Homo sapiens: one gene and its partners. The protein of the gene in region 5 interacts with the protein of the main gene of each other region in a pairwise test. Each region holds a gene or a part of one and is shown on either strand. Other genes may lie near its edges. The genes, in order: ZNF366, UBASH3A, FBXO42, ATL1, DNM2, TEF and FOXA2.

The links.
Region 1: the proteins of DNM2 (region 5) and ZNF366 interact in binary tests that used the Homo sapiens proteins (3 or more experiments, as listed by UniProt).
Region 2: the proteins of DNM2 (region 5) and UBASH3A interact in binary tests that used the Homo sapiens proteins (3 or more experiments, as listed by UniProt).
Region 3: the proteins of DNM2 (region 5) and FBXO42 interact in binary tests that used the Homo sapiens proteins (3 or more experiments, as listed by UniProt).
Region 4: the proteins of DNM2 (region 5) and ATL1 interact in binary tests that used the Homo sapiens proteins (3 or more experiments, as listed by UniProt).
Region 6: the proteins of DNM2 (region 5) and TEF interact in binary tests that used the Homo sapiens proteins (3 or more experiments, as listed by UniProt).
Region 7: the proteins of DNM2 (region 5) and FOXA2 interact in binary tests that used the Homo sapiens proteins (3 or more experiments, as listed by UniProt).

What each region holds. Positions count from the first base shown.
Region 1 is NC_000005.10:72,458,911-72,462,410, forward strand, and holds part of ZNF366 (zinc finger protein 366), read right to left. Parts: intron 2,601-3,500; 5' UTR 2,587-2,600; coding exon 1,255-2,586; intron 1-1,254. UniProt on the Homo sapiens protein: Has transcriptional repression activity. Acts as a corepressor of ESR1; the function seems to involve CTBP1 and histone deacetylases.
Region 2 is NC_000021.9:42,417,402-42,420,901, reverse strand, and holds part of UBASH3A (ubiquitin-associated and SH3 domain-containing protein A), read right to left. Parts: intron 2,502-3,500; coding exon 2,293-2,501; intron 1-2,292. UniProt on the Homo sapiens protein: Interferes with CBL-mediated down-regulation and degradation of receptor-type tyrosine kinases. Promotes accumulation of activated target receptors, such as T-cell receptors, EGFR and PDGFRB, on the cell surface.
Region 3 is NC_000001.11:16,314,481-16,317,980, forward strand, and holds part of FBXO42 (F-box only protein 42), read right to left. Parts: intron 2,248-3,500; exon of another isoform or gene 1,957-2,247; intron 956-1,956; 5' UTR 939-955; coding exon 689-938; intron 1-688. UniProt on the Homo sapiens protein: Substrate-recognition component of some SCF (SKP1-CUL1-F-box protein)-type E3 ubiquitin ligase complex. Specifically recognizes p53/TP53, promoting its ubiquitination and degradation.
Region 4 is NC_000014.9:50,566,645-50,570,144, forward strand, and holds part of ATL1 (atlastin-1), read left to right. Parts: intron 1-3,500.
Region 5 is NC_000019.10:10,773,579-10,777,078, reverse strand, and holds part of DNM2 (dynamin-2), read right to left. Parts: intron 1,377-3,500; coding exon 1,173-1,376; intron 1-1,172. UniProt on the Homo sapiens protein: Catalyzes the hydrolysis of GTP and utilizes this energy to mediate vesicle scission at plasma membrane during endocytosis and filament remodeling at many actin structures during organization of the actin cytoskeleton.
Region 6 is NC_000022.11:41,388,442-41,391,941, reverse strand, and holds part of TEF (thyrotroph embryonic factor), read right to left. Parts: intron 1-3,500. UniProt on the Homo sapiens protein: Transcription factor that binds to and transactivates the TSHB promoter. Binds to a minimal DNA-binding sequence 5'-[TC][AG][AG]TTA[TC][AG]-3'.
Region 7 is NC_000020.11:22,581,773-22,585,920, forward strand, and holds the start of FOXA2 (hepatocyte nuclear factor 3-beta), read right to left. Parts: upstream 2,801-4,148; 5' UTR 2,507-2,800; coding exon 2,420-2,506; exon of another isoform or gene 1,971-2,419; intron 1,383-1,970; coding exon 78-1,382; 3' UTR 1-77. UniProt on the Homo sapiens protein: Transcription factor that is involved in embryonic development, establishment of tissue-specific gene expression and regulation of gene expression in differentiated tissues.

The DNA of each region.
Region 1 (3,500 bases), on a different chromosome or scaffold from region 5:
TCTTCATATGCTCTAAAATGCACTTTTGATTCCTTTCCCACATATAAAGGAGCCCCTGAAGTTAGCGAATGGTCCCCTTTACGGCTGAATCCCAGTCTGGGTCCTTTGTTGATGGTTCCTGCACTTGGCAGGCGACTCCCCTCTGGATAGTATCTACAGGTACCTTTTGTAGGGCAGGAGCTGTTTGTGCAGAGCCCACAAGGCAGCCACACATTTCATCTCTGTGGCAGAGCCAGAAAATACCCTGTGTTTTGTCCTAACCTAAGAAGTGAAACGTATTATAGCACAGCAGAAACATTATCTTGGCTGGGCAAAGTCCTCTCCTGACCTTTCAGAATTAAAGAATGCTTTAGAAACTCTGGCTTGCTAGAAGTCTTTCCTGCCAAGAAAACCACTTGAGGTTAAGGGTGTGAGAGTGGGAGTCAGTGGGGGCAAAACTCCCTCTCGGAGGCTCAGAGCAGGTTCCATACTTTAGCTGGGGTAAGATTTCAGGAACACCACTAGGGCCTTGTTTTAGTTCAGCCTGAATGACTCCAGGGCTATGGTTGCAAACTGGGCTGAACTCAGACTCTTGGGCCTGTATTTCCCCTTGAAGACCTGAGCACAGAGAAGATCAAACAAAACCAAACAGAGAAGGATGCTTTCTCATGCCTCCTACAATGTAAACCACAGGGCACTTCACCCAGCTAGGCACGGGTCCAACGCAGGGAGGTATAGGCCCTGCCGGCCTCAGCCAAGCTCTGCTTCCCTTGGAGAACTTGCATATGAAGCAGGTCTCACAGTTGAGGGAGAAAACAATCCAAAAAGTTTTCCACTGCTTCAACAGTACAAGACGAAGAGAATTATCCAGAAGGTGCTCCCTGGCACATCCCAGGCACAGAGCTGATCTAGGGTCTGATGACTTACTCATGCTAGTGCCTTGGATGAAGTTTCTAGAAACCGAATCTGCAAGATTCTTGGAGGCTAGGGAGCATCCTTCCTCATCTCCTCTGCAAATGTCTGCATTATTTATTTCTAGGCCTACCTTAGAGTCTAGAAGGCTGCTGGGGCAAAGGGCTTGGTCGAGAATCGTTCTCTCTTATTTAAACGTGAGGAAGGACCTCAGGGCTCGGCCAAGGGACCGCTTGTCCGGGGTTGCCCACCTCCTCGGGGTAAGGTGCAGAGCGGCACAGGCGTCCTGCTCCCCAGTGCTCTGCTCAGGGCCCCGCTCCTCTTCCCAAGGCCCCGTCCGCCCCACCAGAGGCCCCGCAGTACCTTGTGGGTGAGGGAGTGCTGCTTGAGGTGGTGCGGCTGCACAAACTCCATGCCACACTCTGAGCAGATGTAGGGCCGGATGTCCTTGTGCTTCATCATGTGGTTCTGCAGCTGGCTCGGGTACTGGAAGGTCTTGTCGCACTCGGAGCAGTTGTACTGGATGGGGCCCCGGTGCGTGGTGAGGTGTCTCTTCAGCTGGGCCAAGGTGGGGAAGTCGAGGCCGCACTCCACACAGATGTTCTCGCGCCCACTGGCGTGCTTGGCTTCGTGGGCCTTGAGCTCGCTGGGGTAGGCAAAGCCGCGGCCGCACACGCGGCAGTTGTGCGGCTTCACCTCGCTGTGCTGCATCATGTGGCGCTTCAGGTGGCTGGTCTGGGTGAAGGCCTTGTGGCACACCTGGCACTTGTGGGGCCGCGTGCCCTGGTGGGTCAGCATGTGGGTATGCAGGTGGCTGAGCTGCTTGAAGAGCTTCCCGCAGTGCGTGCACGCGTGCGGCTTGATCCCACTGTGGCCCAGGATGTGGGTGACCAGGTTGTACTTGGAGGTGTAGGACTTCTCGCAGGTGGGGCACTGCCAGCGCTTCTGCGAGCCGCCCACGTCCACGTAGTAGCTGTCATCGATCTGCACGTTCACGTCCACCCTCTCCACCTTCTGCTTGGTCTCCTCGCTCTCCTGGGGCTCGGCTTTCCGGGGCAGCAGAGGTTCCGGGGGCTGCTTGGGCAGGAAGGTGTGCCGGCTGAAGGGGAAGGGCGAGGACGAGGGCACGAAGAAGGGGAACATGAGGCCCGGGTGGACTTTGGGGTAGTAGGGGTAGGGCGTGGGCAGGAATGGAGTGGGCGTTGGCTGGGGCCACACGGCGCTGGGCTTAATGGGTTCCTGCTTGACGGGCTTGCCCCCAAAGTGTTCCAGGCTGCGGTAGAATTGGAAGCCCACGTTGCACAGGTCGATCATCTGAGAGTCATACTTGGGGCGCGGGGGCTGCGGGAACAGCAAAGGGAGGTTGGGAAGGCCGTGGTTTTTGTTCTCCTCTGAGTGGAGGGCGAGGGTGACTTCTTCTGCAGGGTGGTTATAGGGCATCTTTGTGGGCATGCTCTTCCGTTTCCTAGACCCTGCTCCTTCGAAGACCCCGGGGAACCCATCTAGGTCTCCTGGGGGAGGTTCATACCGAAACTGGGAAAATGGCCCTCGGAGAGCTTCCGGGAAGGGGTGTCTTTGGGGAGCCTTTCCCCGAGAAGCCACTGGCTGCAGGCAGTGGGGAAAGGAGGGGGTCTTCTTCACAGCCAAGTCGAAATGCACATCCTCGTCTTTGATCATCTTCATTTCCTTCTGCATCCTTGGCAATTTTCCTTTAAAGAGAAAGAAACTTGTGTGTTTTGGTTTGGTTTTGTTTAAAATTCTCTTTTTCCTTAAGGATTATGGCTATTTATCAGTACTAATTTATGAAGAGTAGTACTTGCTTAATATGGACCCTCATTTATCCTAGGGCTGTTCAAAATATCGCTTTTCTTTCTCCTTGCAAACCCAGTTATCAATATGGATAGCACTGGCCTCTTGGGGTGACCCTAGGGCTGAATCAAATTGGGCTCCAGTGTAAATCCAGCCACAAAACCACAAGGGGTGATGGTAGCAAGGGAAGTGGACTAGTTTGGGAAGAAACCTGAGAACTCATCTGGCCATTGTCCCCATTTAAGATCAGGGTACCAAAGTCCAGATAAATGAAATGACATTCTCAAGTTACATAGGTACTCACTGAAGGAGTGAGCACTAGACCCATTCTGCTGCAGCTTTTCAATCTGAGTTGTAATTACATCTACTAATGGTGATTGGAAAGTGACTTTTAGGGTCTTTTCTTTGTGTAAGGAAACCAATTTTCACTGCTACTCCCTTGCTTGGGCCTTTGCTGCTGGAAAATGAGGATATTCAAAGCCTCATAGGAGAAGGGATGTTAATGCTTAACTCAGATCTAATCGTTTCTGAGTATCCACTCTGAGTAAGGTGTGCTACTAAGGCATAGGGAGTGAATGACATAAACATGATTTTAAAAAGCATATTGAGTAGCTCAATGTTATAAAGTCATCCTGGCAATGTACACATTCCACTCTTAAACCTGAAGCAAGCTGGAATGAAATATTCCTTTATTATGTGAAATAAAGCCGCACATGGGTCTCTCCTTTCAGACAGGTGTCAAAGTAAGGGGCAGGCTTGGTGACTCCTGTGGTGCCTGACATGTCCCCTGCTGACACAGC
Region 2 (3,500 bases), on a different chromosome or scaffold from region 5:
AGTCTAGGTGCTGCTGGAAGGAGATTTTACAAATGTGACTAGAACCCCTAATCAGTTGAGCTTAAATTAATCAAAAGCAAGGTTATTCTGAGCAGGTCTGACTTATGCAGTTGGAAGGCATTTTTTTTTAAAAACTTAGGCTTTCCTCACACTCAGAGACTTCAATAGCAGCTGTGTCTGTGACTGCTCTCCCATCACCCGGGTGGTCCTTCCAACTGCCACATGTGGACAACAAGCTTCAGCTTGCCCATGGGTTTTCAGCCTAAGTAGGCTCCTCCCTTCCTGCCTGTCTGCCCTTGCTTAGCTAGCCCCAGTAATTCCATAAGGCAATTCATTGTAGTAAATCAATATAGATGTGTGTATACATATATACCTTTCCATATATATATGTGTGTGATACATGTGTATATAATATAAAATACTATGTATGTATAGTCAGCCCTTTGTATCTGGAGGTTCTGCATTTGTGGATTCAACCAACTGCAGGCCAAAAATATTCAAAAGATTAATCAATTAAAAAATAGCAATACAATTTAAAAAATACAAATAAAAAACAATACCGTATAACAACTATTTGCATAGTATTTATACTGTATTACATATCACAAGTAATCTAGAGATGATTTAAAGGATACAGGGTGATGTGCATAAGTTGCATGTAAATACTACAGCATTTTATATCGGGGACTCGAGAACATGAGGATTTGGGTATCTGTGGGGGTCCGGGAACCAATCCCTTGCAGATAGCAAGGGACAACTGTACATATACTTATATGTATTATATATTGTATGAAAGTGACTGGTTCTGCATCTCTGGTTAAACTTTTACTAAATTTGGTATCAGGAATGGGGTGCTACTCTAACAAACAGTGGATGTTCTTCAACTTCAGATGGGGTTATGTTCCAACAAACCCATCATAAATTGAAAATGCATTTAATGCACCTAACCTACTGAACATCACAGCTTGGCCTAGCTTACCTTAAACACGCTCAGAACACTTACAGTAGCCTATGATAGGGCGGAATAATCTAACACAAAGCCGATTTTATAATCAAGTGTTGAGTATCTCATGTAATTCGTTGAATGTTGTACTGAAAATGTAGCACAGAATGATTGTATGGGCACTTGAAGTACAGTTTCTATTGAACCCATATCACTTTCGTAACATTATGAAATCCTAAGCCAAACCATTGTAAGTTGGAAACCTTCTGAACTTAAAATGTGGAAACAACTTTGGGACTTGGCAGCGAGTAGAGGCTAAGAGACTTTTGAGTAGCACAGCAGAGAAAGCCCAAATCACCATGAACAGACTGCTAGAGGAAATAGGGATGCTAAAGGTGAATCCTCCGGGGAGAACTCAGAAAGGAATGTGACAGGTGTTCCAGGAAATCGGAGCAAGGAGGATCCTTCCCATGTGTGCCAGAGAGTTTAATGAAATTGTCCATGGAGAGCAGGACTTGTAAGCGATGATGTTGGTCACATAGCTAAGGCTATTTCCAAACAAAGTGTTAAGTGTATCACCTGGTTTCTTCATGTTATTTATAGTGAAGCGGGAGAGGAAAGAGATAAATTGAGGGAAGAACATCGAACAAAAAAGAACCAGTATCTGATGATTCTGAAAATCCTTAGCCTCACCAGATGATGCTAAAAGGTGCTAAAATTAAGAGATTCTTCAGCTGATGAAGAAGCAACTCACCAGGAGCCCTACAGCTTCAAGGAAATCACTCCCACCAACAACTGTGTATGCTCAGGCGAGGGTGTGAAGCCTCAGTGGGGAGCCCAGCCCTGGCAGGCACCTTGATTACAGCCTTGAGACCCCGAGCTGAGGACCCAGTGAAGCTGGACTCTGACTCTCAACCCATAAATACCATAAGATAATAATTGCACTTTGTTTTAGTGGTAATTTATTATACAGTCATAGAAAACTAATAATACGACCTAGGACTTTACATTTCATACACGGAGCAGAAGAATAAATAAACCCAAGCTCAGGACCTCTGAGTATAATTTATTATGTGTGTGATAAAGAAGTAGTATTTTGCAGTAATTTGGGGATTACCATCTCAAATTACTCTAATGCAGAGTAATTCATTCTTTTTTGAATGTTATCATCAGAAAACCAGGGACGAACCAAGATGTTTACTATATACCTGCAGGAATAATTTTGTCAGCATACAGAATGCAATTTTACCAATAATGGAATGGTCTAGAAGCACACTGTTGGCAGGTGGGCACTCTCACACAGTAACTCAGAGAGAGATGACGGGGCTGCAGCCAGAGGCAGCACTCACCTGTGCTTCACCCACGTGTCAGACTCACTGGCTCGATCCGTGTAGTTTTCCGGCAGGAAGCCCCGGCAGCCCGTCCGCTGTGAGATCCCAATCACCCAGCCCTCGCTGGCTTCGTCCTGCTGCGTGGGGTCCACAAAGATGTAGTCACCAGGACTTAGCGTCAGCTCATCCACGTTCTGGGGTTTGTACTGGAATAGGGCTCTCAGGGTCTAGAAAAGAGGCAAAGGGGTTTCACGTCTCGAGCAAAGATTTACATTGGAAAATGGCAGCAATAGGAGGCCTATCACCTGCCACCTCCTGCTTTCTGCCCCTCCAATGTGTTCTGTGTCTCCAAGACTCCATCCAAAGCTTTGTCTGGCAATATATAGCACAGAATGTAATGAAACGCAGCATAGAATTCTTTGGATAGATTTAGAAATACATTTTGGGGCCAGGCGCGGTGGCTCACGCCTGTAATCCCAGCACTTTGGAAGGCCGAGGTGGGTGGATCACAAGGTCAGGAGTTTGAGACCAGCCTGGCCAATATGGTGAAACCCCGTCTCTACTGAAAATACAAAAATTAGCTGGACATGGTGGCGGGTGCCTGTAGTCCCAGCTACTTGGGAAGCTTGAGGCAGGAGAATCACTTGAACCTGGGAGGCGAAGGTTGAAGTGGGCGCAGATCACTCCACTGCATTCTACCCTGGGTGACAGGGTGAGACTCCCTCTCAAAAAAAAAAAAAAAAAAAAAAGAAAAAAAGAAAAAAAAAAGAGATACATTTTGGGATCTATCCATCATCCATCCATCTAGGTACTTTTTTGTCTACAAAAGATCTGAAGGCATAAGCAGACTTTCACATCCGCCTTCCTCGGTGTGAGGTTATTGACACCTCATACGATACAGAACATGGTGGATTCATTCACACGTGCTCTCTGGGTCTGAAAGGAGCATCACACACTTCGTTTCTAAACCCATCGATTCATGGGCAGGAAGTCCCAGAATGAGGTTTCACTCAAATCATTCTTTAAAGTGAATTGTGCTCACTTTGGCAGCACATATAACTAAAATTGGAATGCTGCAGAGAAGATTAGCATGGCCCCTACATTTAAAAAATAAATAAATAAAAAAGAATTAATAAGCAAAACATGTATTCATAGATCTTTACAATAGTCCTTTCCTTTCTGTCTTTTTTTTTTTTTTTTTTTTTTTTGCCAGTCTCGCTCTGTTG
Region 3 (3,500 bases), on a different chromosome or scaffold from region 5:
TCTATAAAATGCAGGATCTTCTAGTCAGAGTTTGCTGTGAGAATGTAAAGCAGTTACAATAGTGCTTGACACGTGATAAAAGCTATGTTCACATTGGCTATTACTATTATCCCATATCCATTTCTATTTTGCCCATTCAAGAACAATACAATTAATCCATTTGGGACGCTGAGGCGGGCGGATCACGAGGTCAGGAGATTGAGACTATTCTGGCTAACACAGTGAAACCCCGTCTCTAGTAAAAATACAAAAAATCAGCCGGGCGTGGTGGCAGGCGCCTGTAGTCCCAGCTACTCTGGAGGCTGAGGCAGGTGAATAACATGACCCCGGGAGGCAGAGCTTGCAGTGAGCCGAGATTGCGCCACTGCACTCCAGCCTGGGCGACAGAGTGAGACTCCGTCTGAAAAAAAAAAAAAGAAAAGAACAATACAATTAACCAGATCAACTCTAAGAATATGAAGCTTTTAAAAACAATCCTCATTTTAAAATGCAAATGGGATTAGATACTTCAGTATTCAAGCTGTTCATTAAACTAACCAGGGTAAGAAAGAAAACCGGGTAGTATCGTCTAATGCTAGATTTTATAACCATAATACATTTAAGGGAGGAAAAAAACTAAATTTGGAGTCTAAAAATAAATCAGTGAAATTTGAAATCAATAAATAAACCTTTCTCCTATCCACAGTACCTTTGATAAGTCGATACCACTGTTTGCAGACAAGGGCCGCAGTTTTGTGTTCCTGATACGGTGAGAGAAAGGACAGGATATACTCCAAAACCTCTTCTGGCAGCTCCGACATGGACCTATTATGTCTAGTCTCCTCAGCCTCCAATACTGGGTGGGGCTCCTCATCTTGATCCATTGTCCCTTCCAGCACAGTTTCTTCCTGGTCCACAGCCATGAAACTGTCATCTTCACTGTCCGAGGAGCTGGCCATGACATTCCACTCAACAGCTGTAATAGGTAAAACATAAATATCAGTATTCCACTGAAAGCAGCTCAAAAACAATTCAGGCATGTACATCCAAGCTCTTTGTAATTTCGTTTCCACTCTCAGTGTGAAATCTGCTCTTCAGCACTTTCCAATACCACTTGTGAGCCACCTTAATTCGACAGGTACAGCTCAAATACCAAGCCCATCCCCAAAGGCTTTTGATTACATTTTTTCTCTTCACTGAAAACCAGAGTGGCAGCCAAGTTCTGGTATAATCGTAAACCAGAAAACTTGTTCTCCAACAATTCTTCTAACTCAAGGATCTGACTGACCGACAGCAAAGGGAAGAGCAACTAGCCTCCTTGGCCAGTAACAATGATCTAAGACCTCAAATTTTGAAGGAAAAACTAACTCTGGGTCTTGCAAAAAGTAATAACATTCTGAGAATATGGGTTAAGAAATAACCGTTTTTCGACCAGGCATGGTGGCTCAAACCTGTAATCCCAGCACTTTGGGAGACCGAGGCGGGCAGATCACCTGAAGTTGGGAGTTTGAGACCAGCCTGACAAACATGGAGAAACCCCGTCTCTACTAAAAATTGAAAATTAGCTGGGCATGGTGGCACATGCCTGTAATCCCAGCTACTCGGGAGGCTGAGGCAGGAGAATCACTTGAACCTGGGAGGCAGAGTTGCAGTGAGCCGAGATCATGCCACTGCACTCCAGCCTGGGCAACAAGAGCAAACCTCCATCTCAAAAAAAAAAAAAAAAAAGAAAGAAAGAAAAGAAAGAACAGTTTTTCTAAACTTTTATGCAAGACGATTCACTTAACCTTTTTCCTGTTTGCCCGGAGAATACTTGCCAGCGGTGCCTGCAACTGTGGTGTTTACCCCGAGATAACTTTGCCACAAAATATCTCTTTTGTTACTGTTTTCACATCGCTCTAGTACATCAACTTTAGAAACAAAAGACATCATTCTATTTATAGCATTCTGTTTTTAATAGTGGTTATTTCCACTTACAAAATATAGTAGTTCTTGGTTGGGTGCAGTGGCTCACACCTGTAGTCCCAGCACTTTGGGATTCTGAGGCCGGCAGATCACCTTAGGTCAGGAGTTCGAGACCAGCGTGGGCAACATGGCGAAATCCCATCTCTACTAAAATACAAAAATTAGCCAGGTGTAGTGGCGCGTGCCTGTAATCCCAGCTACTCAGGAGGCTGAGGCAGGAGAACTGCTTGAACCTGGGAGACAGAGGTTGCAGTGAGTCGAGATCATGCCACTGCACTCCAGCCTGGGACACAGAGAAAGACTCTCAAAAAAAAAAAAAAAAAAAAAAAAGATAGTAAATGTTCCAAGAATAGACTTCACTTGCTAAAATACCAAATACAAGGCAGTATTTACAATAGAAAATATGAATCATTAAGAGATCCAGGCAGTAAAAAACTAGAACAACATGAATGTCTATCAACAACAGAGCAAATAAATTGTGGTACATTCGCCATGAAATATAGAGCAAAGAACCACAGGTTATATACATATAAATAAATCTCTCAAACATAATGTTAAGCAAAAGAAGATAGAAGGCCGGATGCAGTGGCTCACGCCTGTAATCCCAACACTTTGGGAGGCTGAGGCGGGCGGATCACCTGAGGTCAGGAGTTCAAAACCAGCCTGACCAACATGGTGAAACTCCGTCTCTACTAAAAAATACAAAAATTAGGCCGGGCGCAGTGGCTCACACCCGTAATCCCAGCACTTTGGGAGGCTAAGGTAGGCAGATCATCTGAGGTCAGGAGTTCAAGACCAGCCTGGCCAACACAGTGAAACTCCATCTCTACTAAAAATGCAAAAATTAGCTGGGCGTGGTAGCGTATGCCTGCAGTCCCAGCTACTAGGGAGGTTAAGGCATGAAAATCACTTGAACCCAGGAGGTGGAGGTTGCAGTGAGCAGAGATCACTCCGCACTCCAGCCTGGGCAATAGAGTGAGATCGTCTCAACAAACAAACAAACAAACAAAAATCCAAAACTTAGCCAGGCTTGGTGATGCATGTGCCTGTAATCCCAGTTACTTGGGAGGATGAGGCAGGAGAATCACTTGAACCTGGGATGCAGAGGTTGCAGTTAGCCAAGACTGGCCACTGCACTCCAGCCTAGACAATACAGCAAGACTCCATCTCAAACAAGCAAACAAACAAACAAACAAACAAACAGAAGACAGAAGAATGGGCAGGCACAGTGGCTCATGCCTATAATCCCAACACTTTAGTAAGCCAAAACAGGAGGATCATTTGAGGTCAGGAATTTGAGACCAGCCTGGGCAACAAAGTGAGACACCATCTCTACAAAAAAATAATTAACCGGGTGTGCTGGCACACATCTGTGGTCCCAGCTACCCAGGAGGCTGAGCAGGAGGATCACTTGAGCCCAAGAGTTTGAGGCTACAGGAAGCCATGACCACACCACTGGACTCCAGCCTGGGCAACCGAGTTAGACCATGTCTCGAAGAAAAAAAAAAAAAGAAGAAGAAGAATATATACTATACGATTACAATTATATCAAGTTC
Region 4 (3,500 bases), on a different chromosome or scaffold from region 5:
TGCCCATTTTAAAATTAGGTTATCTTTTTCTTCTTGCTTTGTAGGAGTTTTATACATATTTTTTATATAAGTCCTTTGCTGATTGTCTTATAGATCTCTTTTACCACTTTTTGCATGACTTTGATCTCTATGGTGTATTTTAATAAACAGACATTATGTATTTAAACGTAGTCCATTTAAACAATATTTTCCTTTATGGCTTGTACTTTTTATATTTAAAAAAATCTTCTCTTACCTCAAAGTTATAAAATCGTCTTCTATATTATCTGGTTTTAAAATTTTACACTTCATTTTTTTTCAGTTTTTAAAATTTGTGGTAAAATACACATAACATAAATTTTACCATCATAACCATTTTTAAATGTACAGTTCCGTGATACTAGTACACAAGTAAAATATTGTTGTGTAGCTATCACCACTGTCTATCTCCCGAACTCTTCATCTTGCAAAACTGAAACTCTGTGCCCATTAAACAGTAACTCCTCATCCCTCCTCATGGCTACTAGCAGCCACCATTCTACTTTCTTTCACTATGACTTTGACTACTCTGTGTACCTCACGTTAGTGGAATGATACATTTTTTTTTTTACTGGCTTTTTCACATAGCAAAATGTCCTCAAGTTTCATCCATATTGTAGAATATATCACAACTTCCTTCTTTTTTAAGGCTGAATAGCATTCCGTTGTAAGTATACACCACATTTTTTTATCCATTCATCTGTTGACAGACACTGGGTTGCTTTCACATTTTAGCTATTGTGAATGATGCTTCTATGAACATGGTGTACAAGTATCCCTTTGAGACCCTGCTTTCAATTCTTTTGGGTATATACCCAGAAGTGGAATTGCTGGATCTTATGGTAATTCTATTTTTAATGTTTTAAGGAACTGCTATACTGTTTTCCACAGAGGTTGTACCATTTTATGTTCTCATCAACAGTGCACACAGGTTTAAATTTTTTCATATCTTCGCCAACACTTGTTATGTTCTGTTTTTTAAAAAATAGTTGTCATTCTAATGGATGTGATGTGATATCTCATTGTAGTTTTGATTAGCAATTAATATTATGATTTCTCTTGTGATTTTTTCTTTGATCATTTGTTGTTTAAGAGTGTGTTGTTTAATTGCCACAAATTTGTGAATTTTCCAGTTTTCATTCTGTTACTGATTTCCAACTTCATCTCATTGTGGTTGAAGAAAATATTTAGTATTATACCTATCTTTTTAAAATGTATTGAGACTTAATATGTGGACTCCCTTATAGTCTATCTGGAGAATGTTCCAGGTACACAAGAGAAAAATGTGTATTCTATTGTTGTTGGCTAGAATGTCTGTATTTGTCTGTTAGGTCTAATTGGCACATTGTGTTGTTCAAGTTCTCTATTTCTTTGCACGTCTTTATTTCCTTTTTGTTTGTTTGTTTTATCCATTATTGAGAATAGGATATTGAAGTCTCCAACTGTTAGTATAGAACTATTTCTTCTTTCAATTCTGTCAACTTTTGCTTCATATATTTTGATACAGTGTTCCTAGGTACATAGATTTTTGTCATTGTTATATATTCAAATGCCGTATTAAAACTTTTATTAGTATATGATGTCCTAGCCAGGTATGGTGGTATGCACCTGTAGTCTCAGCTATTCCAGAGGCTGAGGCAGGAGGATCCCTTGAGCCCAGGAGTTTGAGGCTATAATGTGCTATGATTTGGCCTGTGACTAGCCACTGTACTCCAGCCTGGACAACATAACAAGATATTGTCTCTAAAAAAAAAACCAGTTCTTTGTTTTCTGTTAACTTCTGTGGTTTTTTAAAGGCTATCTTTTCTGATATTAGTATTGCCACCTCTACTCTCTTTTGGTTTATATTTACGTGGAATATCTTTTTCCACCCTACCACTTTCAATCTGCTTGTGTCTTTGGATCTAAAGCAAAGCTCTTATAGACAGCATAGAGTTGGATCATGTTTTTAAATCCATTCTGCCAATCTCTTTCTTTTGATTGGAGAGTTTATATCTGTTTACATTTAAAGTAATTACTGATAAGGTGTGACTTCTTTTGTTTGTCTTGCTGTTTTCTATTTGTCTTATAGCTTTTTTGTCTCTCATTTCCTGCATTACTGCGCATTACTCTCTGTTGTGTTCAGTTGATTTTTATAGTGTAATGTTTTAATTCGCTTATCATTTCCCTTTGTGCACATTTTTCTAGCTTTTTTTTGTGGTTACCATGGAGATTACATTTAACATTCTAAAGTTGTAACACTCTAATTTGAATTTATACTAGTTTAATTTTAATAACATACAAAAATTCTTCTCCTTTACATGTCCATCCTCACCCCTTTCAGTTATTGGTATCATAAAAGTATACATATTGTGTGTCCAAAACACATAAACTAGTAACTGTTTTTTTAAAATGCACTAGTTTCTCAGCTGGGCATGGTGACTCATGGCTATAATCCAAGCACTTTGGGAGGATGAGGTGGGAGGACTGCTCGAGCCCTGGAGTTCAAGACCAGGAATTCGGGTCAATATGGCAAAACCCTTTCTCCACAAAAAAAAAAATGCAAAAATTATCCAGGTGTGGTGGTGCATGCCTGTAGCCCCAGCTACTCCGGAGGCTGAAGTAGTAGAATCACTTGGGCCCAGGAAGTTGAGGCTGCATTGAGCCATGATCATGCCACTGCATTCTAGCTTGGGCAACAGAGAAAGACTCTGTCTCATTGAGCTGTGATCATGCCACTGCATTCTAGCTTGGGCAACAGAGAAAGACTCTGTCTCAAAAAAAAAAAAAATACATTACTTTCTTAAATTATATAGAAAACAAAATGTGGAATTACAGACCAAAATTACAAGTATTATTATATTAGCTTTTGGACTTACAGTTTTTTTTAAAAGTATTAGTCTCTTAAACCATATAGAATACCAAAGATGAAGCTACAAACTGTTGTTAAAATAATACTACCTTTAATGATTGCCCATGTATTTACCTTTACTGAGATTTTTATTTCTTCATGTGGCTTTAAGTTACTGTGTAGTGTCGTTTCATTTCAACATGCAGGACTGATTACCATTAGCATTTCTTGAAAGGCAGGTCTAGTGGTAACAAACTCCAGCTTTTGTTTATCTGGGGATGTCTTAATTTATTCCTCATTTTTGAGGGACAGGGCTGCTGGATATAGGATTTTTAGTTGACAGGTTTTTTTTCTTTCAGCACTTAGACTATGTCTGCCCACTGCTTTTTTGCTTCCAAAGTTTCTGATGTGAAATTTGCTGACAATCTTGTTAATAATCCCTTATATGTGATATGTCACTTCTCTCTTGTTGTTTTCAAATTTTTCTCTTTGTCTTTGGCCTTTGACAGTTTGATTATAATGTGTCTCAATGTGGGTCTCTTTGAGTTCATCCTACTTAGAATTTGCTGAACTTCTCAGATGTTTATCTTTCATCAAACTTGGAAAGTTTTCAGCTATTATTCTACAAATAATCTCTCTGCCACTTTCTCTT
Region 5 (3,500 bases):
AGGAAAGAGCATCAGCTGGCAGCTGCAAGCCACCTGGGGTCCAGTTGGCCCTGAAACTTCCAGGTCACATCACCTGGGAAAGCCAGAACGTCACAGGCCTGGACCCCAGTTTCCGACATGTCGAATGAAGATGGTCACAGCCCTGATCTCACAGGGTGGTCATAAGGGTGAGCCTGGCACACGGCAAATACTCAACAAATGCTGGCCGTTATTGTCATTTGTGTTATTAAGGACAACCTCTGCTGCTGCAGGCTTTGGGAAACCTCACGTAAACATGATTCCTGGGCCAGATTTTGATGCTGGACTTTCCAAGTGCCGGCAAAGTCCCAAGGGAACATTTGAGTTTGACACGACTGTTTCCAGGACTACCTCTTGCCTGAATGGCTAAAATTCCACTCTGGAAACCATCCCATCCAATTCCACCTCTCCACAAGTCATTCCAGAGTCAAGGATGTCTTTCTAGCAAAGTCTCACCTCTGCAGATCAACTGCTCCCACGGGGGCTGAGGGCCTGGCTCTGTGCTAACCGTGTGTGTTATATGTGTGGCATGTGCATGAGACACTGGGGACAGATGGAAGCCAGAGTGAAGATCTCTGGTGGGTGCCAATTTGGGCATCAAGGGGGCCACAGCTGTGCCCTCCCTGGGGCCCCTTCCTGCTCACATTCTGCAGTGAGGGTTCAGTAGAAGGATCTGACTAGAGGGGCCCAGGGGTGTCAACTCGAAGGGAAATAGACGATCTCACCATGCAAAGATCAGAAACAACCCAAAAGTTCAACAGTCCTCACATCAGCTATCTGGGTTAGGACTGAAGTTCCCGTTCTGACTAAGAGGGGACCATGTCTCAGGGAGCAGAGTAACAGCTAGATGGGACCTAAGATCGCATCTGGGCGATGGAGCGCTGGGCCCTTCCTTCAGCCCTAGGCTAGCTTCCCACTCTGGCAACATGGGCACTGCCATGTCCAAGGAGGACCGTCCAACTGCCACACAGTGACTTCCCAGGGGATGCCCACCAGCACTGCTGGTTCTCGGAGGAAGTGCCATGTTCCAGGAGGCCTTTTCCTACAGCGGCCATGGATTAAAGAGAACGCCAGTGACTTGGAACCAAGGATGCTGGGCACATCCCATGCTCAGAGGCACCTGGAAGAGGGGACTGCCCTAGGCTCAGGGTTACCTTGGGGATCGACTTCCTTGGCCAGCTTGAGGGCGTCGGAGTTGGCCAGGTCCATGTTGGCGGGCGTGACAGCCAGAATGAGGCTGCTCTCCCGGCTGATGAACTGCAGGATCATGTCCTTGATCTGGTACTCGATGTCTGGAGGCTGGTCGCCCACAGGCACCTTGGTGATACCCGGGAGGTCGATGAGGGTCAAGTTCAACACTGGGAGGGAAACCAGAAGGAAAGGCATTCAGAGCCAGGAGAGGGGAGGCACAAACAGGCCCGCAGCCACCCAGCTGACTACCAAAGTTCCTGCGCGGGGCTCAGACTTGAGGATGTCGCCTGACACTCTGCCTGAACCACACCTTTGATCCAGTAACTCCCCTTCTAGGATCCCATCCTACAGATACCTTCTACCTACTCCATTTCAATGGCACAGTTCTAAATCAGGACAGTTCAGACTGGAATAGACCTAAATGACTGAATAAATTTCAGCCCATCCATTCAGCCAATACCAAAGAACCATTACAGACAAACAGATGAGGCTGGGTGCGGTGGCTCACATCTGCAATCCCAGCACTTTGGGAGGCCGAGGTGGGTGGATCACTTGAGGCCAGGAGTTCTAGACCAGCCTAGCCAACATGGCAAAACCCCATCTGTACTAAGTATACAAAAATTAGCTGGGCGTGGTAGCACACACTTGTACTCCCAGCTACTCTGGAGGCTGAGGCATGAGAAACACTTGAACCCAGAAGGTGGAGGTTGCAGTGAGCTGAGATCATACCACTGCACTCCAGCCTGGGCGACAGAGCAAGACTGTCTCAAAAAAACAAAAACAAAAGACAAATGGATGAGGCCAGGCGCGGTGACTCATGCCTGTCATCCCAGCACTTTGGGAGGCCATGATGGGTAGATCACTTGAGCTCAGGAGTTCGAAACCAGCCTGGGCAAGATGGCGAAACCCTACCTCTACCAAAAATATAAAAAATTAGCCTGGCATGATGGTGTGCATCTGTTGTCCTAACTACTCAGGAGACTAAGGCGGGAGGATCGCCTGAGCCCAGGAGAAGAAGTGAGCCAAGATCTCACCACTGTACTCCAGCTTGGCCAACAGTGTTAAACCCTGTCTCAAAAAAAAAAAAAAATAAATATATAATAAAGAAACATTCTGAGAGGCATACAAAAAAAAAAAAAAAGCATAGGCCAACGCAGTGGCTCACACCTGTAATGCCAGCACTTTGGGAGGCCAAGGCAGGCGATCACCTGAGGTCGGGAGTTCGAGACCAGCCTGACCAACACGGACAAACCCCGTCTCTACTAAAAATACAAAATTAGCCGGGTGAGGTGGCGCATGCCTGTAATCCCAGCTACTCAGGGGGCTGAGGCAGGAGAATCACTTGAACCCGGGAGGTGGAGGTTGCGGTAAGCCAAGATTGCACCATTGCACTCCAGCCTGGGCAATAAGAGTGAAACTCCATCTCAAAAAAAGCATAAGTGATTTTTATGTTATGCTAACAATTTAAGGAAAAGGAGTGATAAACACATACACAACATATACATAGATACAATCACAATTGCTTACATGTTTTTTGCTTACACATTTTTTTTAAGATAGAGGGTCTTGCTATGTTACCCAGGTGAAGTGCAGTAGCTATTCACAGATGTGATCATAGCTCACTGCAACCTCGACTTCCTGGGCCCAAGTGACCCTCCTGACTCAGCCTTTCAGGCAGCTTGAATGACAGGTGTGTGAAACCACACCCAGCTCATGTTTGCATTGTCATCTGAAGAACCTAAAATATGTGTGCAAAACTGGTTGACAAGGTAGGTTTTTGCGATATACCTTTCTGTAATTTTTGAATTCTGAGCCACATGCAGGTGTCATTTATTGAAAAACAAATTTAAAACTTATCGCAAGGAACCCATCATGGTAGCAATCTGTGCCTCTGGGCCAGAGGATGTCTATGGCCCCGGGCTGCTGTTTGAATGCAGAGTTTTAAAATCAGGATATTTGGCTGGGCAAGGTGGCTAAAACCTGTAATCCCAGCACTTTGGGAGGGGGATGCAGGCGATCACCTGAGGTTAGGAGTTCGAGACCAGCCTGGCCAACATGGTGAAACCCCATCTCTACTAAAAATACAAAAAAGTAGCTGAATGGGCTGGGCGTGGTGGCTCACGCCTGTAATCCTAGCACTTTGGGAGTCTGAGGTGGGTGGATTGCCTGAGCTCAGGAGTTCGAGACCAGCCTGTGCAACATGGTGAAACCCCGTCTCTACTAAAAATAAAAAAAATAAAAAATAAAAAAAAAATTAGCCAGGCAGGGTGGTACACACCTGTAATCCCAGC
Region 6 (3,500 bases), on a different chromosome or scaffold from region 5:
GATATATAAAAATGTCAGATGGGCCAGGCGTGGTGGTGCACACCTGTAATCTCAGCACTCTGGGAGGCCGAGGCGTGTGGATCACGAGGTCAAGAGATCGAGACCATCCTGGCCAACATGGTGAAACCCCGTCTCTACTAAAAATACGAAAATTAGCTGGGCGTGATGGCATGCGCCTGTAGTCCCAGCTACTCAGGAGACTGAGGCAGGAGAATTGCTTAAACCCAGTAGGCAGAGATTGCAGTGAGCCAAGATGGTGCCACTGCACTCCAGCCTGGCGACAGAGTGAGACTCCCTCTCAAAAAAAAAAAAAAAAGTCAGATGCCGGCCTGGTGTGGTGGCTCATGCCTGTAATCCCGGCACTTTGAGAGGCTGAGGTGGGTGGATCACCTGAGGTCAGGAGTTCGAGACCAGCCTGACCAATACGATGAAACCCCGTCTCTACTAAAAATACAAAAAGTAGCCGGCCGTGCCTGTTATCCCAGCTACTCAGGGGGCTGAGGCAGGAGACTCGCTTGAACCCGGGAGGCAGAGGTCGCAGCGAGCTGAGATCACACCACTGCACTCCAGCCTGGGTGACAGAATAAGACTGTCTTAAAAAAAAAAAAAAGAAAAGAAGATCCTGCAATGCATAGGTCAGTCACGCCTCCAACCCCAACAAAAAATCATCTGGTCTAAATGTCAATGGTGCTGCTGATTCTGACTTTTATCCTGAGATAGAACACCTGGAGGGCTCTGGGCAGAGGTGTGGCATGATCAGACTTAGGCTTTAATTGGATTATGCACATAAATTCATTGTATCCTATTAGACAGGGGTTAATTACAGAGACATCTGAGTGTCAGAGGAGTGAATGACCAGGGACCCACATGGTAACTGTAGGCAGTTTCGGGCATGCCAAACCTAGTACCTGCAAGACAAGCAGCTCAGGTACCTACCACATGAGAATGTTGTTCAAAGTGACGCCATGCCTGGGTGCCCTTCAGCAACAACCAAGTGGCAAGATGTGGTTAAGTTTCAGGGACAGGATAAGAGAAAGCCGCAGGAAACAAAAGGGGAAAATTTGCAAAGAGGCCTGGGGACAAGATTTTGAGGAATTCTCATTTCCCCATGGATACCTCTATGAACAAATTCTAGAAAATGACAATGAGGGCTGAGCGCAGTGGCTCACGCCTGTAATCCCAGCACTTTCCGAGGCAGGTGGATCACCTGAGGTGAGGAGTTCAAGACCAGCCTGGCCAACACGGTGAAACCCTGTCTCTACTGAAAATACAAAAATTAGCCAGGTGTGGTGGTGGGCGCCTGTATTCCCAGCTACTCAGGAGGCTGAGGCAGGAGAACTTGAACCTGCGAGGCGGAGGTTGCGGGAGCCGAGATCGCACCACTGCACTCCAGTCTGGGTGACAGAGTGAGACTCCATCTCAAAAAAAAAAAAAAAAAAAAAAAAAGATGACAATGAGACCTTAAAATGACTTTGCTGGAAGAAGAGGGAAAGGGAATAGATCTGTTGGTAACTTGCCTGAAATATAATTCTCTCATAGGTCCACCATTACAAAAGATGTCAAAATCAAAGGCTGACAATGGAACTCCAATGCCCTGCTGGTGTGAGTACAAATGGATATAACAACTTTGTACGCTATTTGGCAGGGTCTACACAAACTGAACATATGCATGTCCAATGACCTAGCCATTCTCTTCCTAAGCAAATGCCCAAAAGAAACGCATATATATATTTACCAAAAAACATGTAGATGGGCCAGGCACAGTGGCTCACACTTGTAATCCCAGAACTTTGGAAGGTGAGGCAGGTGGATCACCTGAGGTCAGGAGTTTGAGACCAACCTGGCCAACATGGCAAAACCCCATCTCTACAAAAATAAGCCAGGAGTGGTGGCGCACACCTGTAATACCAGCTACCTGGGAGGCTGAGGCAGGAGAATCGCTTAAACCCAGGAGGCGGAGGTTGCAGTGAGCTGAGACCCCGCCACTGCACTCCAGCCTGGGCGACAAAAGCAAGACTCCGTCTCAAAAAAAAAAAAAGACATGCACATGAATGTTCATGGCAGCATTATTCATAACCAAAATCAGAATGTCCTTCAACGGTTAAATGGATAAGCTGTGGTACGTTAGTACAATTGACTACTATTCAGCAATGAAACTTAACAAAGCGGCTGGGTGTAGTGGCTCATGCCTGTAATTTCAACCAACACTTCGGGAGGCCCAGGTGGGAGGACTGTTTGAGGCCATGAATTTGAAACCAGCCAGGGCAACACAGTGATACCCTGACTCTACAGAAAAAAAAAAAAAACTTTTATTTATTTATTTTGAGATGGAGTCTTGCTCTGTCACCAGGCTGGAGTGCAGTGGCGCCATCTCGGCTCACTGCAACCTCCGCCTCCCGGGTTCAAGCGATTTTCCTGCCTCAGCCTCCAAGTAGCTGGGATTACAGACACGCACCACCATGCCCAGCTAATTTTTGTATTTTTAGTAGAGTCGAGGTTTCACCATGTTGGCCAGGATGGTCTCGATCTTTTTTTTTCTTTGAGATGGAGTCTTGCTCTGTCGCCCAGGCTGGAGTGCAGTGGTGCAATCTCGGTTCACTGCAAGCTCTGCCTCCTGGGTTCACGCCATTCTCCTGCCTCAGCCTCCCGAGTAGTTGGCACTATAGGCACCCGCCACCACACCCGGCTAATTTTTTGTACTTTTTAGTAGAGATGGGGTTTCACCGTGTTAACCAGGATGGTCTCAATCTCCTGACCTCGTGATCCACCCACCTCGGCCTCCCAAAGTGCTGGGATTACAGACGTGAGCCACTGCGCCCGGCCTGTAAAATACCATTTATGAGACAACTTTGGAAATCTGAATGTTGATGGATTTATTGTCAACTTTAGATGTAAAACTAGTATTTTCGTTATGTTTTTTTTAAAAGAACCCTTATATTTTAGATACATATTGAAATACTTATAATTTGATTGAAAATAACTGCTTCTGAGTTGAGAATTGTTGAAGCTGGGTGACGGTTACATAGAGGTTCATTATAGTCGTCTCTTACTTTTGTATTTTGTTTGAAAAAATTTCCACAATAAAAAGAAAAAAAAATAGAGTATGAGAACTTATTGGGTGTGGATTCCTGGGGTGACATACCGACTGGCAGGAGCTATCAGCCTGTATGCCTCAGAGACTGCAGAAAGCTTTGCAGAACCCCTGCAACAGGAGCCATGTCTCCTTTGGTAGGTTCGTGTCCAAGGAGCATGAAAACAAACCCCCAGAGATAAAATGTAAAAGGAGGAGGAATAAGGACAGACTCTGAAGATGATGTTTGTCCTGGCCAGGTGGTGGGAATGCTTTCTTTTTTTTTTTTTTTTGAGATGGCGTCTCACTCTGTTGCCCAGGCTAGTAGGTAATGGAGGTAGCACTTGAATAGTGCTTATGCCCTGGCACAAAGAAAGCATTCCCCACTTTGGGAGGCCAACGTAGGTCGATCACCTGAGGTCAGGAGTTC
Region 7 (4,148 bases), on a different chromosome or scaffold from region 5:
TCTCGACCCCCACTTGCTCTCTCACTTGTCCTCGATCCGGGGTGCCAGAGTTAGCCGGGCCTGAAGCCGTCGTCTTCTTAAGAGGAGTTCATAATGGGCCGGGAGTACACCCCCTGGTAGTAGGAGGTATCTGCGGCCAGGGGCGAGGCGTCCAGGCCCGTTTTGTTCGTGACCGGGCCCATGGCCAAGCTGCCAGGCATGGGGGAACCGTAGCCGGGGTAGTGCATCACCTGTTCGTAGGCCTTGAGGTCCATTTTGTGGGGTTGGTGGTGGTGGTGGCTGTGGTGGTGCTGCTGCTCCGAGGACATGAGGTTGTTGATGGAGAACGGGTGGTTGAAGGCGTAGTGGTGTTCCGGCTTCAGGTGGGCCTCAGGCGGCAGGCCCGGGTGGTGGGGCGGGCCCAGCAGGTGGGCCGCGGCCTGCTGCTGCTGCCCGGGAGAGGGCGCCGGCTCTGGGGGGCTCAGCGCCGCAGCCGGCGTCCCCTTCAGCTCTCCCAGGCCCCCTCGCTTGTGCTCCTGGCACGGGGAGGCGCTCGAGTGAGGCGACTCGGTGCCCGCCGGAGTCTCGGAGGCCGGCCCGGCGGCCTCCCCGAGTTGAGCCTGTGAGGCCTGGGCTCCGGCGGCCGCCTTCTTGCCGCTGCCGGCGGCGCCTGCGGCCTCCTTCAGCGCCAGCTGCTTCTCGCACTTGAAGCGCTTCTGGCGGCGCAGGTAGCAGCCGTTCTCGAACATGTTGCCCGAGTCAGGGTGCAGGGTCCAGAAGGAGCCCTTGCCGGGCTTGTCGGGCGAGCGGGGCACCTTCAGGAAACAGTCGTTGAAGGAGAGCGAGTGGCGGATGGAGTTCTGCCAGCGCTGCTGGTTCTGCCGGTAGAAGGGGAAGAGGTCCATGATCCACTGGTAGATCTCGCTCAGCGTCAGCATCTTGTTGGGGCTCTGCTGGATGGCCATGGTGATGAGCGAGATGTACGAGTAGGGCGGCTTTGCGTGCGTGTAGCTGCGCCTGTAGGTCTTGGGGTCGCGGGCGCGGCTCAGGCCCGCCTGCCCGTACATGGGGCTCATGGAGTTCATGTTGGCGTAGGGGGCCAGGCCGCCCATGGCCCCGGCCGCCTGCCCCCCGAGCGGGCTCAGGCTGGGACTCAAGTGCGGCCCCATGCCCGCCACGCCGGCCGCCCCGGCCGAGCCGCCCATGCCCGCCATGGCGCCCGCGCCGGGGGACATCCCCGCCAGGGACGGGCTCATGCCAGCGCCCACGTACGACGACATGTTCATGGAGCCCGCGCTCATGTTGCCCGAGCCGCTGCCCATGGCGGCCGCCGACATGCTCATGTACGTGTTCATGCCGTTCATCCCCAGGCCGGCGTTCATGTTGCTCACGGAGGAGTAGCCCTGCGGACAGAGCCCCGGGAGGGAGGCGACAGCGTTAGCACCGCGGCTGGAGGGTGCCCAGACCTCCCACCCACCGCCCAGGCCTCCGCGTCCGGGGAGGCCTCCGGGGAGCCCTTTCGTCCCCGATGGCCCAGTCTCCGGACTCCGAGTCTGTTTCATTCAGGGAGAGTCATGATCGATCGCCCTTGGGAAGGTGGCGAGCGGATTGCTGCTTGGGCATGTGGCCCGTTCCTAGCCCTTCTCCACCTCGCCCAGATTCTAGAACAGGGGTCCCATGGAGTACTCCCAAGCCAGCACCCCAAATACATTCCCCTACCCCAGAGTCTCCCCAAACTCTCCCACCAGCATACTGAGCTGGCGCCGAGGCCCGAAGTCCCCGGACGCCACCTCCGGTCGCAGCAAGCAACCTGCGGGACAACGCGCGGGGCGCCTCGGGCTGCCTCCAGCGAAGACTGTCCCGGGCCCCCTCTGTCCGGTCTCCCTCCAGGGACCCCCTCCCTTGTCCCAGGGAAACTGCAAGGCAGTGCCTGTGCGGAGTGCGGGGGCGGCTGGAGGCACTGAACGGGGCAATAGGGAAAGAACCGAGACCTGAACCACACGCGGCTGAGCTTTGCAGGCAAAAACTTTCTTTCTCTTTGTCCACTAGTCTTTGACTCTGCCTCCACTTCAGCCCCCAACTCCTACCCATCTTCTCCTCCTCAGCTCCCCACCCCCTCGCCGGCCGACCTCCCACCCCTCCCCAGCCGCGCGCTGCCAAACATAACTCTGTTAGGATAGTGCGTGGCTCGGCCACGAAGAGGATTTGGAGGCGCCGCAAGTCAATATTTGATCACAAAGTTAATATTATCTCAAGGCTAACAGTGTGTCGTATAAAAAAGAGACCCATTTGATTCCAAGGAGGGCGGAAAAGGCGGCTGCCCAGAAAGGCTGGGGTTGTGGGGCGGGGTGGGGGGGTGCCAGCGAGGGAAGCGGTCCTGAGGTTGGGGAAGGAGCGAGCGCCGCCGCTCCACTTCCCCCTGGAAAAGACGAGCGCTTACCTCGGGCTCTGCATAGTAGCTGCTCCAGTCGGACGGCTCGTGCCCTTCCATCTTCACCGCTCCCAGCATACTGGAAGCCGAGTGCATGGCAGTTTAAAATTTAACAGCCACAACAAACGACCAGCAATCACCCCCCACCCCCACCCTCTTTTAAAAAAAAGTCAGCCAAAGCACCGTCCCCTCCTCCCTCCCTCTCTCGCGCTCCCTCTCCCTGGGCTCCACTCCCTCTCTCTCCCTGGGCAGGCCGGAGGCGGTAGTTGGAAGTGGGCGGGAGGTGGGGGGGGGCGAGGAGCGGAGGAGGCCCAGGCCAGCGCCCCGCGGTAGGGAGCACCCGCCGCCGCCGCGCTCACGGGCTGCCGGGTGGCGGCTGAGGTTGGCAGTGCCGAGCTGCCCCGAGGCGGCGGGAAGCGCGCGGCGCGGGGGCTAGTGGGGGGGTGGGGAGGAGGAGGAGGAAGGAGGAGGAGGAGGCGGTGGTGGTGGTGGAGGAGGAGGAGGAGGAGGAGGAGGAGGAGGAGGAGGAGGAGGTGTGGACCGCGGAGCGGACAAGTGCCGCAGTGACGTGGGAGGCTGGTGATATAGCGCGGCGCGCTGGCGCGGGCCTCCAATCCCCAGACCCGGGGCAGCCCATTTGAATAATCAGCTCACACCTAGGTGAGAGGTAGCCGCAGCCGGCGCTCCGCACCTGCCCCTCAGCGCCTGCCGTCCGCCCCACCGCCGCGGCGCCCCGCACTCCTGGGCGGGCCAGGGGAGCGGGCTGGGCGGGCGATCGGGCACGCGGGATCCCTGGTCGAGCCCCCTTTCCTCCCGGGTCCACAGCGAGTCCCCTGAGGAAGGAGGGACCTGGGAGGAAACCACCCTCTGGGGCGGCTCCGGCCTCCAGCCCCCGCCCCGTCTCATCGCGCCGGGCGCCCGGTGCGCCTGTCGGAGGGCGCGTCCAGCCTCAGTGCCCGGCAGATCCCTATGAAAGCCGGATTTATTTATGCCGGGTTTCTTCGCTCTCAGTGCTCATTCTCTGTCAAAACAGCAAGTCCATGACAGCCAATTTGCAAAGCGCTGTCCTATTTAGAAAAACTACGTACACACCTTTAACTCGCCCGCTGCTGCTCCTGCGAGGCCCCTCCCTGTTACAGTTCAGACCCGGAACGGCCTCGGGAGAAGCGCGGGGCGCACGGTCTGGCCGCCTCGGCTCTCCGACTCCTCAGACACCGGCCGCCAGGGACCCGCAGTGGGGCGGCCGGCGCCTGGCGCAAGCAGCCCCTCTAGCAGCGGCCGACGGTTGGGAGGCTGAGATTTGTCTCTGATATTCAGGCCGGCGTGTTTCAAGGTTACTTTTCAGTCACAACCGAGGTGCCCACAGCATTTCGTAACTAAAACAAACAGGGCAGGAGGTGGGGAGGGAGGGGTGAGGAGAGAAGAATCCAGGAATCAATGATGGGGCATATGGAGTTGACTTCAAGAGCGTCTCTGTCCTCTCTGTCTTCCAGAGGGACTGCTTAATAGAAATTAGAAACTCCAGCAATCGTATACTTTTATTTCCCCAGCAGCTCTTGGGTTCAAAAATTGTCTTCTGTTCTGGGTTAGCCTGTGAGCCCAGATTTGGAGTGGGGGGATATTGCAGGTGTTTGGATGTGGAGGCTCTTTCTTGGTTCTGAAAACCTGGCTGGACCTTGGGGATCCAGCCCTGTACCCACCCCCTCAGACACAGAGAATGCATAGGAACTAGTGGGCA